2 linked regions of the Homo sapiens genome follow. The protein of the gene in region 1 purifies or fractionates together with the protein of each later gene. This does not show direct contact. Each region holds a gene or a part of one and is shown in the gene's direction. Other genes may lie near its edges. The genes, in order: CREG2 and GLDC.

The links.
Region 2: the proteins of CREG2 (region 1) and GLDC purify together in Homo sapiens (affinity purification with mass spectrometry; one large-scale study listed by BioGRID and IntAct). This does not show direct contact.

What each region holds. Positions count from the first base shown.
Region 1 is NC_000002.12:101,381,004-101,384,503, reverse strand, and holds part of CREG2 (protein CREG2 precursor), read left to right. Parts: intron 1-801; coding exon 802-971; intron 972-1,423; coding exon of another isoform or gene 1,424-1,496; exon of another isoform or gene 1,497-1,813; coding exon of another isoform or gene 1,814-1,829; exon of another isoform or gene 1,830-2,944; intron 2,945-3,500.
Region 2 is NC_000009.12:6,531,443-6,534,848, reverse strand, and holds the end of GLDC (glycine dehydrogenase (decarboxylating), mitochondrial precursor), read left to right. Parts: intron 1-60; coding exon 61-141; intron 142-1,688; coding exon 1,689-1,832; 3' UTR 1,833-2,382; downstream 2,383-3,406. UniProt on the Homo sapiens protein: The glycine cleavage system catalyzes the degradation of glycine.

The sequences.
Region 1 (3,500 bases):
TTCATGAGGGATCCACCCCCATGACCCAAACCCTTCCCACTTGGCCTCCCCTCCAACACCGGGGATCAGAATTTAACATGAGATTTGGAGGGATGGATATCCAAACTATGGCACCACCCTTCTCCCACCCTAGTGGGTGATCATGAAGAAAAATTGGCATATCATGTTTCTATGACTTCCTTTATGCAAAAAGGGTAACAAATCAATTTCTCATAACTTGCTGAGTCGTACAATGAAATATTATTGATTACAATAAAAAATGCAGCTAATAAATGAGAAAGTGATGCAGCCCTAAAAGAAACAATAATAGAAAGTTCCTGAAGTCCAGAGAGCAGGCAAGACGTTAAAGACTTAAACATCCTCCCTAAAGTTGCTCAAAACTTGGGACAGGCAGTTAACCTTGGGAGTTAAAGCGGTGGGGCTGTAACAGGCAGCTTGTGGAAAAGGCTTAGCACCACCTCCCATAAATGTCATTGTCCCTCCCCAAAAGAACATGAAATTTAACAAAGTGAGTATATCTGCCATGCACAGGCAGCTTCAAGAAGAATCCTTTCACCACCCCTTCCAAACAGGATGCCACTGCTGAGTATCTCCTGTGGAGAAATTCTAGAGCCACCACGGAGTGAATTGGGCAGACTGGGGACCACCTCACCTTGATTTACTACCTGTCAGAGCCACTGTGATGCCATGATCCCCCCTCATCCCTGGTGTTGTATTTCCTAGCCAGAGGCACAAGCTAAGCTCCCAGATCAAGTCGAGCCACAGCTCTGCACTGAAAAAGCCTTTTTTGGTGTTTGTTAGATCCAAGGACTGCCATTTGGGAACTGCCTGCCCGTCAGTGATGGCCCCTTCAACAATAGCACTGGGATTCCTTTCTTCTACATGACAGCCAAGGACCCCGTGGTGGCTGATCTGATGAAGAACCCCATGGCCTCGCTGATGCTGCCAGAATCAGAAGGGGAGTTCTGCAGGTAGACGACGGTTTGCCCTCACTCACACGGGTCCTGGGAAGTTTTTGACAGAGAGTTGGGGGTGGGTTTCTCTCTGGGTCACATGACTTTAACAGAACTCTGAGATGCACATTGATGTTCACCCTTGAAATCAGATAAATTAGAATTCCACCACTCACCAAGCAGTGTGCTTTGTAGCAAGTTAGTTGATCTTTGGGAGCCTCAGTTTCTTCATCTGTAAAATGGGAATAATAATCTTTGCCTCCGAGGGTTATTGCAAGTGCTGGAAATAGGTGTAAAATGCTTTGTGCAACACTGGCAGGAGTCCAGACAGCTCCTGTTGTTATGGAAAAGGGCGAGGGTGGGAGTGAGGGTTGGTAAAGGAAGAGCCAGTAGTTGATCTCCCCAGCACGGAGGCGTGCAACACAGAGTCTATATATTGTCTTTCCAATTTATTTCTATCCTGTCCCCAGAGATATGTGCAATAAGGAGCCAGCATTTTTTAATTCACTTTTTCAAAAGCTCTCTGAAAGAAAACACTTCTAAAGACATTTAAGCACTAACAGAACATTGATGCAGGCCCCTTTATCTGAATTCAAAATGCAAAGCCTGAACTCGCATCCTCCCCGGGAAATGTCTGCATGGAGCTGGTGTGGGAGCTGCATGTGAGATCCCCTCGTCCTTCCCAGAGGAGCAGCAAATGCCCAGGATGGCCTGGGGTGAGCCCTTTAACCTCCAGGACCTTAGTCACTCCACCTAAATGTAGTGATGCTTTAGAAAATCAACAGGCCTCATCCCATCTGTGAAATTCTATTATTCTTTATGCACAGCACGGAAAACATAATAACCAAACAATGTATTAGTTCTTACAGAGGCTAATCAAAGCAACTATACAATGCAAGATGCATCCTGGATAAGCCATTGTTTCCCCTCAGCCACGACAGACCACATGGAGACACTTCAGCTGACCCTGTTCCCCACCAGGTTACAGCAAGAAGCCAGGAAAAGAAACATTTCCTTTCTCATGGAATATTCTCCCTGTTCTTGGTCAGTCAAGCTTACTGTTACTAGAAGTACATTTCCAGGATACCTTTCTTTTCTTTTCTTACTCTTTTTTTTTTTTTTTCGAGATAGAGTTTCGCTCTTGTTTCCCAGACTGGAGTGCAGTGGCGCAATCTCGGTTCACTGCAACCGTGAACCTCTGCCTCCCAGGTTCAAGCAATTCTCCCTGCCTCAGCCTCCCAAGTAGCTGGGATTACAGGTGTCCACCACCACGCCTGGCTAATTTTTGTATTTTTAGTAGAGACAGGGTTTTGCCATGTTGACCAGGCTGGTCTCAAACTCCTGACCTCAGGTGATCCACCTGCCTCGGCCTTCCAATCCAGGATACCTTTCTAAGCTTCCCAGGCTTTCCTCATTCAGGTATCCTGAAAGCAGTCGTGCTGGAGCATGTGGCTCCCAGAACCCAGAGCACAGCCGCTCTGGGGACAGGCAACAGAATATATACTTGGGACAAAGCTGCGGCAGCACTCCAGCTGGGGGAGGATTTGTCAACTGGCAACCCCCAGGCAAATGGCAGCAGGAGCTGGAGCGAGGAGCAGTGAGAAATCTGACTTAGGAGAGGTCCTCATGGGGAGAGGATTTCAGGGTGACTTCCTTCAGTCCCTTGGGAAGACTTGCCTGCACAGCCTAGAGCCACGTATGCGGACCTTCTTCATGACAGGCCACATGTAGGACACGCAAACACCTGTGCAGCCCCCTGGCTAACTGGGTGAGGCAGCTCGAGGCTGGAGGTGAGCACCCCGGGGCCAAGGGCAAGAGCATCTCAGCATACCTGTTACTCTGGCCTGGGAGAGGAAGGATGAGACGCACTCATGGGTACCCCTTAGTTTATGTCTTCTTGTAAAACTGTTTCTCAGAACTGCTATACCCCTGACACTGTTTAAGCTTCTGAAGTATTGAAATATGATGTAAATAAATGCCTACAAAACCAAGTTTGGCCTTAGTAAGCATCACACTTCAATGCAAAGCTTACCAAGCAATGGGGCTTTTGTCACCCTAGGGTCTACGACTTCCCATAATCGGCGTAAGCCCAGATGTGACTCACCTGTGTGAGGTTCGCATTCCAAGTGGAGCTTTACATTTTAGGTTTCACCTTCAGAATCTTGGCAATACTGAACACAGGGACTTAACAAGTCAAAGCCATGTGGCTGGCATTGAAAAAGAGCCCCGAATAAACAAGCCAAGCAAGGGGTTCCTAGGGCCACTGGAATATAGCGAGGTATCTGGTAGAAGTGTCCGCAGCTACCCAAACACCTGGGTAGAGCTTCGAAGGACAGCCCGGCAAGGTACCAGCAAGGTGCCCCTCCTGCCTGTCGCCGGGCCTGAAGAGGTCTCCAGCAAAGGCAGAGATCGTCGTCACGTGCTTCAGAGCTTCACAGCATCTCCCACAGGAGCGGGGAGATTCAAGAAAGCGCCCATGTCTTACGATGATAACGACAGGTCAAGGCCACCTGCTCCTCTCAGCTTCAGAAGGCAGCTCATACTCAG
Region 2 (3,406 bases), on another chromosome or scaffold:
GGTAGGAGGAGAAGAGAGTGTATTGCTCTGACCCCTCCTCTGTCCGTGTCTCTGTCTCAGATGTCTCCACACTCCCTGACCTGCGTTACATCTTCCCACTGGGACCGGCCTTATTCCAGAGAGGTGGCAGCATTCCCACTCGTAAGTTCTCTGAATCTGAATGTGCCAGCTGGGAAGGCATGGGCCAGCTCCTATCCTGACGGGTGTACGCTCTTAGCCTCATGATTACAGAAACCATATGTGGGGCACCTTGTGAAATAAGGGTCTTGAAGAGGAATGAGGAGCAAAGAAATTGGCTTTCAGAGGCGAGGTCACACAGTATCAACCACAGATCTGGGAACCCATAGGGAACAGAGTGGGGGAAAACTGAATACGAGTCCTGCCCAGTGGACCAATGTGTTTCCCTCCACTGTGGGACAGGGAGATGGCGCCCAGTGCAACCTTCCTTTCCTTTCTGATTCTTATATGGAGGAGAAGGTTCTGTGTAGTCTGTTTGAGTGAGGTAGGGAGAAGGCTAAAAATGTGCCAAATTATGCTATGTGCTGTTTATGGATCTATGCAGTAATAGTATAAAAACATAATGAGAATGGTAAATCCTGTATTCATTGGAGAGGAGAGGAAACAAAATGATGCTTTTTTTTTCTTTCTTTTTTTTTTTTTTTTTTTGAGACGGAGTCTCGCTCTGTTGCCCAGGCTGGAGTGCAGTGGCATGATCCTGGGTTCACGCCATTCTCCTACCTCAGCCTCCCGCTGGGACTACAGGCGCCTGCCACCATGCCCGGGTAATTTTTTGTATTTTTAGTAGAGACGGGGTTTCACTGTGTTAGCCAGGAAGGTCTTGATCTCCTGAACTCGTGATCCGCCCACCCCGGCCTCCCAAAGTGCTGGGATTACAGGCGTGAGCCATCACGCCCAGCTGATGCTTTTTTTTTAATCGTTCAAATTTTTATTTTAATACACAGTATGAGAAATTAACTTTTTTTTTTTTTTGAGATAGAGTTTTACTCTTGTTGTCCAGGCTGGAGTGCAATGGCACCATCTCGGCTCACCACAACCTCTGCCTCCCAGGTTAAAGCGATTCTCCTACCTTAGCCTCCCAAGTAACTGGGATTACAGGCATGTGCCACCATGCCTGGCTAATTTTGCATTTTTAGTAGAGATGGGGTTTCTCCATGTCGATCAGGCTGGTCTCGAACCTCTGACCTCAGCTGATCTGCCTGCCTTGGCCTCCCAAAGTTCTGGGATTAAAGGCACGAGCCACTGCGCCCAGCCGAGAAATTAACTTTTAAATCAACTGAATTGTATGGAAAATGACATAGCAAATAAATTAGACCTATGTTAAAAGAGAAGGTCAGCTAAATATCCAAACTTAAGGATATAATGGGCAGATAAACATAGATTCCAAAGTCTTCTTTAAGCAGTTGAAGTCTTTCAAACACAACTTTGCTATAAACTGGTCCAGATATCAACAGCACATAGGGATGCTTAACAGGGGTGGTGATCAGGGACACGCCTCCTGGGAAATGCCTCTTTTTTTTAAATGGTAATGTAGGGTTGGATTTTAGGTTCTCAGAATATTTGCTGGGCTGATGGTGTCTTAGGTTGTGGGACTAGCATTGCCACCTCCTTTGCCCTAAGAGAAACCTCCCAGAACATCTCACAGCATTTCCATCTTTTGTCCTTTGCAGCCCTTCGTGAAACCAGAGAACAAATTCTGGCCAACGATTGCCCGGATTGATGACATATATGGAGATCAGCACCTGGTTTGTACCTGCCCACCCATGGAAGTTTATGAGTCTCCATTTTCTGAACAAAAGAGGGCGTCTTCTTAGTCCTCTGTCCCTAAGTTTAAAGGACTGATTTGATGCCTCTCCCCAGAGCATTTGATAAGCAAGAAAGATTTCATCTCCCACCCCAGCCTCAAGTAGGAGTTTTATATACTGTGTATATCTCTGTAATCTCTGTCAAGGTAAATGTAAATACAGTAGCTGGAGGGAGTCGAAGCTGATGGTTGGAAGACGGATTTGCTTTGGTATTCTGCTTCCACATGTGCCAGTTGCCTGGATTGGGAGCCATTTTGTGTTTTGCGTAGAAAGTTTTAGGAACTTTAACTTTTAATGTGGCAAGTTTGCAGATGTCATAGAGGCTATCCTGGAGACTTAATAGACATTTTTTTGTTCCAAAAGAGTCCATGTGGACTGTGCCATCTGTGGGAAATCCCAGGGCAAATGTTTACATTTTGTATACCCTGAAGAACTCTTTTTCCTCTAATATGCCTAATCTGTAATCACATTTCTGAGTGTTCTCCTCTTTTTCTGTGTGAGGTTTTTTTTTTTTTAATCTGCATTTATTAGTATTCTAATAAAAGCATCTTGATCGGAAGAATGCCTTTCTCTTGGTGTACTTTATAGTTTTACCACCGTTACAACCTAGATTCAGTGGGAGCTGAAGGGCAATGAGAACACCCAACCCAATAGCCATTGTTACATCATCAGTTTTGCCTTCGACTGGCTGAAGAAACAGTTGTCTTGGTCAACAGTGAAAACCACTTTGACCCTTTTTGTTGGAACTGAGTTAGAGTGCATGTAACTGTACTCCAGCTATGGAAGGTCAATCAAATAGCAATTTATCTTTTCTCATTTAAGTCCAGAGGTAATAAGCCAAGCACTGGTGCTCCTTCAGTTTTCCCGCTCTGCCCTCCTTTGCATAAAATTTTCATCCGCATGGTCTCAAGAAGGCTGTTGCATTTCCAGGCGTCTGACATACCCATTCTAGTTAGGATTAAAAGGGAAGAGCAAAGGCCAGGCGCGGTGGCTCATGCCTGTAATCCCAGCACTTTGGGAGGCTGAGGCGGGAGGATCACCTGAGGTCAGGAGTTGGAGACCAGCCTGGCCAACATGGTGAAACCCCATCTCTACTAAAAATACAAAAAATTAGCCGGGCATGGTGGTGCATACCTGTAGTCCCAGCTACTTGGGAGGCTGAGGTGGGAGAATTGCTTGAACCTGGGAGGCAGAGGTTGCAGTGAGCTGAGATTGCACCACTGCACTCCAGCCTGGGCAACAGAGTGAGACCTTGTCTCAAAAAAAAAAAAAAAAGAAGAGCAAAAGGCAGCTTCCACCCAAATCTGCTTCTTTTGAAATGTTTTCGAATATGTTCCACTCAGTAACTGCTGCAGCTGGCCAAAATTGGTTCAAATCTCACTCCCAGCTACAAGAAAGTGTGGGGAAGTCTGTTACCTGGGCATGTGACTGCCCCAAACAAAATCAGGAGTATGTTAATTTTTAAAAAGGTGGGGAGAATGGGTTTTAGGTTGGCAACTAGCATGCCTGCCACAAATGACTTTGCCTTAGAAGTAGCAAATGCTCTAATCATGACTACTTGGTTTCTTGCATGGCTGCTTCCT